2 linked regions of the Homo sapiens genome follow. The protein of the gene in region 1 interacts with the protein of each later gene in a biochemical or structural test. Each region holds a gene or a part of one and is shown in the gene's direction. Other genes may lie near its edges.

Region 1 (3,917 bases):
TGGTCCCACCCTTGACACGTGGGGATTATTACAATTCAAGATGAGATTTGGGTGAGGACACCACCAAACCGTATCACTAACTACGCACTTAGGAGGAGTCACTTAATCTTTCTGAGCCTCAGTCTTCTCATCTCTAAAATGAGGAAAACAATAGTTCGTTCCTTATGGGGTTGTATGAGGTGCAATGCATGTAAGGCACTTAGCACTGGGCCTGGCACATTGTAAGCATTCTATAAATGTTAGTTACTCTTTCCCCTGTTTCCTTCTTGTCCTCAAATTATTGCTACCCAGGCACAGGGAGGAAGATGGGATATCACTAGGGAGAGATAAGGGAGCAAGATGCCCTGGGTGCACACAATCTAGGAAGCTGCAGGATTTTCCCCCAGAAGTATGGCTGGTGTCTACACACACTGAAGGGGCATCTGCCTGTGAAGTAGCTGGTGGTTCTGAGGCCTGTCTGCATCCTCTCCTCTAGTTTAATCCAATTGTCAGTATACCAGTGACCAGGAGCTGCAAGTCCTCCTCTTGTGAACCATTCTTTCACTACTCTGGGATGGATTTGAGGTTGAGAAAGCACAGACTGATGGTTCTCTCTATTCTGATAGATAATTTCCTGAAGGTCAATGCCATCTTCTTAAGTATTGCCTCTAGCTAAAAGTACCATTTGGCTTTTGTTTGTTGGCTTAATTGAATGTTCTTTGGAGATGTGTGTATTTGTACACTGAAAGTAATGGAATTAACCCTACACTTTGAAGATGATCTTCAAGTTAAAATATCTCGCAGCATGAGGAAAGAGGGAAAGGGACAGAGAGCAAGGGTGAGAATGAGAGCAAGACTGAGAGAGTGATATGTATGTCTGAGTAAGGCAATGAGTTAGGAGAGAGAGAAGCCCAGGCAGTCTTCCTTCTTTATTGCTGAGAAGTCACATCCACAGAGACTGGCCCACATCCTAATTCTGGGCCAACAGCTCCATTGTGCAATACCAAAGGTAATTCTAAGTTGTGTTCTTTTGCTTTCCCCCAAGGGATTTTTCTGCAAAGAAGAAAAAGACTTTGATAACTGGTGTAGCCTTGTTCAGAAGGTAAAGCTATATGTTTTTCTTAGTCTGAAAAATGAAGTTACCCAATTTTATTCCTTTTCAAGATTGTTTTTCATAGTAAAAAAAAATCCTACTCTGATACGACTTTACTGCAAGAGAAAGAAACTAAGGCAACAAAGAAACTATCAGGTGTGGGGAATTGTGCATAACTTCGGGGAAACTGAACAAAAATTTTGGTTTGAAATATGCTTAGCATGTCAAGGGAGTGATATTTTTAGTGATGAAACCTAATGTTTTATCTCATTAATAGACAATTATTTTCTAAAGGCAATACTTACATTTTAGAATGCAGCAAAACTGTATTTATGTCACATTTAAAGGTGGAATGAGAATTTTCTGATAAGACTATGCCTTTTATTTTATTTTATTATTTTTTGAGACAAAGGCTCGCTCCGTCACCCAGGCTGGAGTGCAGTGGCGGGATCTGGGTGCACTGCAACCTCCGTCTCCAGGTTCAAGCGATTCTCCTCCCTCAGCCTCCCGAGTAGCTGGGATTACAGGCGCCCACCACCACGCCCAGCTAATTTTTGTATTTTTAGTAGAGACAGGGTTTCACCACATTGGCCAGGCTGGTCTTGAACTGACCACAGGTGATCTGCCCACCTCGGCCTCCCAAAGTGCTGGGATTACAGGCATGAGTCACCGTGCCCAGCTAAGACTATGCCATGTAAATTAGGATATATACCATACATGTTGGACTGCCACTGAAACCATGCCAATATGTAGCAATAGTCTCTTGGGGCAGATTTAATTTCACTAACTGACATTTCTTTGGAGCCAGTGCTTCAGGAACATGTCACCCCTAAAGTGAGCTGGACCCATGCGTCTGGCACAGGCACTATGCCTCATGATGGAGAATAGGCAGTGAGTGCTGGCCTTCATCAGATACTCCCCGCAAAGTCCTTCCTTCCTGGCTAAACAGTATCTAGAATTGAAGATGGCTGAGTCTTCAGATGGTTCAAGTAGAGGATGCATGTATTTTCTAGGCCCCTGTTTTCACCTGGAAACCAGCAGACCACTGTCTCAGGGTTTGGGGTCAAAGATTGCCAATTAGAAATGTTGTGACTCTGAAGTATTTAAAACTGTTTTGTCATCTCCCCAGGAAATTCTAAAGGAGAATTTAAGGATGTTTGAATTAGTTCAGAAACATCCATCACACTGGCCTCCCTTTGTACCTCCAGCCAAGCCAGAAGTGACAACCACTGGGGCAGGTAAGCTGTTGTTCAATGGCTCTCAGCTAGCAGACCCACATATAGCAGTTGTTTTATGAGAAAGAAGAATTGTGGCCCATGCTTTCTGTGGACAGTAAAATTTCTACTCAGCTGGAGTGATAAAAAAATGGCACTTCTGGTTATTTTAATCTTCTGATGAGCTGATATTTACCAATTTCAAAGAATGATAATAGAAGAAAATGAGCTCATTGCAAAAGTTCTATGCAAAATCAAGATGACTAGGATTGCTTTTTCATGGTCTGGTTCAGAATAGCAAATTGAGGCCATCGATAATTCAAAGGTATCTTGAAGGGCTTTCAGAGCCTTGGCCACATCACCGTCGTTAGGTTTATGTAACAAGTCTGGCTATTTTGAGTCTTTATAGATAATTTCTAATACTTGGCAGTAGTTCTAATTGTAAGTCTCCTCCACACAAGTCTTTCTTTAGTACAGCAATTAAAAATGCTTAGTCTTAACTACTGAGTAAAGTATTTACTGACCACTTCAACCCAAGTGTCAAGCTTTTCTTCTTTCTCATTTCCGTATTCTGATAGAATTCATTGACTCTACTGAGCAACTGGAGGAGTTTGATCTGGAGGAAGATTTTGAGATTCTGAGTGTGTAGAATCCTGGGAACTCAACTTGAAGGTCTGTCTTCCATCTGGCACCATAAAAACATGAACTTATTGCATAAAACTTTTCTAGTCAGCAAGTGCCTGATATGCCAATAGCATACAAACTCAATAGCAATCATGACTGAGCCAATCACTGTTTCTCAGAAAAACAAAACAAAACAAAACAAATGACAGTAACCCTTCCCCGGAAAGAAATAGAACAATCATGGAGCCTAGGAGCAGAGAGATGAGGAGGAGTTCATTGCTTCCCAGCTTGTGTTATATGGCTACAGCAAGTCTTCAGCTGCTGCAATGAGGAAATGGGCATCTGGAAGACAAACAGCAACTCTCAGCTTGCTTCAAGAACCAGCAGATAAGAGATGGTTAAGCTGTTCTTCACCCTTTCAGATGTGACCTCTTTTGGACTAAGCAGCAATCTGTTCTCTTGCTCAAATAATAAAGTGACTGAATCAGGGAGGAAAAGGTTCTTGTTAAATTATTTGATTGTGTAGTTGAAGTAATTATAATTTATATCAAAACGTTTGTCAAAGAAACGATGTCAAATATACACTTCTTGATCTCCCTTCTGTTTGCGGGGATCTTACTATTTGATGGGTCACTGTCCCCATTCTTACTGATACTTTTGTCAGATATCACCCTGTCCTTAAATCATGATCACTTAAATCAGGGGTCAGCAAACTTTTTCTGTAAAGGGCCAGACGGGAAATATTTTGGGCTTTGCAGGCCATGCGGCCTCTGTCACATCTACTCAACTCTGCTGTTGACATGCAAAAGCAGCAATAGACAATATGCGTGTAAATGAGTGTGGCTGTAATCCAAGAAAACTTTATTTACAAAAGCAGGTGGAGGGCTGGGTTTGGCCTGCAGGCTGTAGCTTGCCAATCAGTGACTTAAATTGTTGATTTTTGTTTGATAAATTAAAAATAAATTGTGTTTGAAGTATACCCTACTTGGTTGACAGCCATATTTAGA
Region 2 (3,917 bases), on another chromosome or scaffold:
GGCAGGGGAGAAATGGAAGCTCCTTCCCTAAGGCCAGTATTCAACCTGAGGAGACACCCCAGGGCCTGCCCACTGGACGCCATTGGTCTGCCACAGCTGTAGCTCTGGAAGCTGTGGTGTTGCTTGAGGAGATCTTGTCACCCATGGGGCTCTTCTAACCTTCCTTCCCAGGCCTCTGGGCTGTGTCTTCACCAGGGGAGGAAGCCTTGGGCATCCGTGGTTACCCTGGGCTTTCCTTAACGTGTTTGGGGAGGTAATCTTCTTTCATAACATCTGCAACTTCTACAGAGCCTTGGTGACTCTGTGTTTTGTACTTCCTGGAGGTGTTGGCTTAGTGGGAGAAAATAAGTGACTAGGACCTATGGCATTGAGTTTATTTTCCTCAATTCTGATTCTCTGGTTCTTCTCAAAGGAAATGAAGCAGGCTTCTGGAGACCTTAAGATTACTCAGATGGCTCCACAGTAATCTAGCAATTAAAATGGCTACAGGTCTTATCAACTTCCCCTCCCCCGTTATCCCTGAGATAGAAATAGAATTGGAAATGAAAAATGATTTTTCAGGGCAGCAGAGACTGTTTCAAGCCATTTTCTCTCCAAGTCCCATTTGCCTTTCCAGTGTGGTGAGAATCAACCCTAAAGCAGATTACACTGGTAACTCAAGTCAGGATTTTAGGGCCGAGTAGCCAGAAATCCAGCTCCTGACCCTTCAGGATTTAGAGTCACCAGCTAGGGCCCTTTTGCCCAGGCTGTCAGCTCTTTGGCCCCAGTTAATGACTTATCACCCTACACTTAATGCAACTGTTTATTTTGGGGTTTTATTCTCAGAAGTAATTTTTTTTTTGAGACAGAGTCTCACTCTGTTGCCCAGATTGCAGTGCAGTGGTGCAATCTGAGCTCACTACAATCTCTGCCTCCTAGGTTCAAGTGATCCTCTCACCTCAGCCTCCCTAATAACTGGGACAGGACCACAGGTGCATGTCACCACACCGGGCTAAAAATATAAATTTGTTTCTAAACATAAGAGGCGTGTGACATCATTGGGCTTTATGCAATATATAAATCACCCATAAACATAAAAAGTGCTACAGGGTCCTTCCTAAAGCTGGCTGTGATTCAGCTTCACCATCTCTTCCCCAAGACAATTTAGCAGCCTCTTCCTCAGGTCTTTTCAGCTTCCTTAGGGGAGCATGGAGCCTCCCTTAACCTTCATGCAGTGCTTGCTGGCTTCAAAGAGTGGCTGGGGAAATTAGAGAAGGGACGAATTCAGGCCTGCAGGAGCCCTCCCTCTCCGGTGACTGACTGGTCTGCATGAAGATCAATTATGTCTGAGGCTGAAGGGGAGTGAGTTCTCAGTTATTTCTGCCTTGGAGTGGAAAACAGGCGGTCACCATGTAAAGTGTCATGATTTTTATTTAGAGTAGTTAGTATTAAATATTGATTCTATAAATAGAGACAGAGGCAAGTCCCTAAGTTTTACTTCCTAAATTCTAAGTTCTTGTTTCATTTAAAAAAGAGGGAATCACAATGGCCTTTTCCCATTTAGCATTGGAAAGTTGAATTCTCTGCCTAGGTGCCAGCATCAAGAATCAGGCCAAAAACGGAATGGGGAACCATGCCTTTGTTCAGACAGAACTTCAGAAAAAACATCAGTGTACAAGTTTCCTAGTCATGACGTTAGAGGGGAACTCAGACCTGGCAGTGAATGGTCTTTGGTCTTTGTTTGTTTAGAACATAGATAAGAGTCTTGTTAATCCCCTGTTTAAAATAGAAACAGGAGTATATCATTAAATATAATATCTCTAAGATATTATTTTTTATTGTTGTTGAGACAAGGTCTTGCTCTGTCACCCTGGCTGGAGTGCAGTGGCACAGTCATAGCTCACTGCAGCCTTGAACTCCTGGGCTTGAGAAGTCCTCCTACCTCACCAGGTTGGTCTCAAACTCCTGGCTACAGGTGATCCTCCTGCTTTGGCCTCCCAGAGTGCTGGGATTATGGGTGTTACCCACCATGCCTGGCCAGATATTATAACTGACATTGGGAAACCTGTGCTGTTTAAGAATATGGTGTTTATTTGCTTCTGGATCTTAAAGAGATCTTCAGTAAAAGGAAGTTGTGATGTTTTGGAAATGAAAAGTGATTTTCAGGGCAACAGAGACTGCTTCAAGGCCATTTTCTCTCCAAGTCCCATTTGCCTTTCCATTCTGCTGAGAATCCACCCTAAAGCAGATTATACCAGTAACCCAAGTCAGGATTTTAGGACAGAGTAACCAGAAATCCAATTCCTGACCCTTCAGGCCCAATTAATGACTTCTCACCCCACACTTAATCATCCTTTATTTAGAAATGTGCTTAAAGCACTTTGATCATTTCTGGGTAAATACCTCTTTAAGGACAGGACTTTTTTTTTTTTTTTGGAGACGGAGTTTCACTCATGTCGCCCAGGCTAGAGTGCCCAGGCAGTGGCGCGATCTCAGCTCACTGCAACCTCTGCCTCCCAGCTTCAAGCGATTCTCCTGCCTCTGCCCCCTAGTAGCTGGGATTACAGGCGACTGCCACCACGCCCGGCTACTTTTTTTGTATTTTTAGTAGAGACGGGTTTTACCATGTTGGCCAGGCTGGTCTCTTAACTCCTGACCTCAGGTGATTCGCCGACCTTGGCCTCCCAAAGTGCTGGGATTACAGGCGTGAGCCACTGCTCCCGGCCTAGTTGTTCTTTTTATCAGATAAATATGTTCTGTCCTAGGCCGTGTGTGGTGGCGGTCGCCGGTAATCCCAGCTACTCGGGGGCTGAGGCAGGAGAATCGCTTGAAGCTGGGAGGAGGAGGTTGTGGTGAGCCAAGATCACGCCACTGCACTCCAGCCTGGGTGACATGAGTGAAACTGTCTCAAAACAAAAAAAGGAACAACAACCAGTGGTTAATCTTTTTATTTTAGAATCTTGGGGAGCCTCAGGGCCTTATTAACTTTCACTGTGAAGCCAGTGCCTCTCCAGGATTGACAGTAGTGGTCACTGCCCTTCCACCTCCCACCACCCATCCTGCCCTGCTGGAGAAGAGATAATCCAAGGTCCAGTGGAAGCGCGTGGACTCCAAAGCAGATGGGTGGCCAGGTGTGCTCATCAGCCCAGCCAATTCATGAGTCGGTGTAGACCCCACAGCCTCCATGACCTGCCCTTGGTTGGGGCGAACGTAGGTTCTCTAGGGATTGGGCATCCATACAGTTCTAGGTCAGCCTCTCCCAATGCATAGCGCTGTTGGTAGCATAAACTGATGTCTGTCTTGAGTCACATGGCCATTCCTGGATGTAGGTCTTGCTGCAACTTTCCTTTTTTTATTGCACAGTTTCTCCACTGGAGAAGTGGTTTTACCTGGATCTGTGTCATTCAGTGGAGGGGTTGGGGAGAGGGCTTTAGGGGGCAGTTTAAATTCATTTTCACATAGTACTTCAGGGTCCCACTTCACCTTAGATTAGCTCCATGGCTTGAATCTACCACTGGCTTTACCCGTTTCTTTCTTTGCCAGACTCAGAGCTTGGAAGGTGGCAGTGCTTCTGTACTCAGAGCAGCATCTTTCTCAGATGAATGCGTGTGGTACTTGATGCCACAGGGTGTGCATTCGTGTTAGGGACTGGAGGCCATCTTCAGGTGTTCTCTACAGCCACCTCCCAGCAACTTAGGCAGCAAGCCTTGGAGCTGCAGTGCTACTTGCGAGTTGTCAGGGCATCCAGCAAGCCTGTGCAGCTTAGCTGGATAGATGCATTAGAGCTGCCTCTGTGCTGCAGGATCCTCAGGCATCCTAGCAGTGGCCTGCTCAGTGCTGTGTATAGCTCAGGCCTCCAAATTCTGAGGGGGAAGTTTAACTTCTCAGAGGTTTATGGAATGTGTCCCAAACTGACACACCAGCCTTCTGCTAATAGA

The links.
Region 2: of the proteins of ATG4A (region 1) and GABARAPL2, one has a biochemical effect on the other in vitro, tested with the Homo sapiens proteins (one study listed by BioGRID).

What each region holds. Positions count from the first base shown.
Region 1 is NC_000023.11:108,150,778-108,154,694, forward strand, and holds the end of ATG4A (cysteine protease ATG4A), read left to right. Parts: intron 1-1,024; coding exon 1,025-1,081; intron 1,082-2,201; coding exon 2,202-2,310; intron 2,311-2,864; coding exon 2,865-2,935; 3' UTR 2,936-3,894; downstream 3,895-3,917. UniProt on the Homo sapiens protein: Cysteine protease that plays a key role in autophagy by mediating both proteolytic activation and delipidation of ATG8 family proteins.
Region 2 is NC_000016.10:75,569,273-75,573,189, forward strand, and holds part of GABARAPL2 (gamma-aminobutyric acid receptor-associated protein-like 2), read left to right. Parts: intron 1-3,917. UniProt on the Homo sapiens protein: Ubiquitin-like modifier involved in intra-Golgi traffic. Modulates intra-Golgi transport through coupling between NSF activity and SNAREs activation. It first stimulates the ATPase activity of NSF which in turn stimulates the association with GOSR1.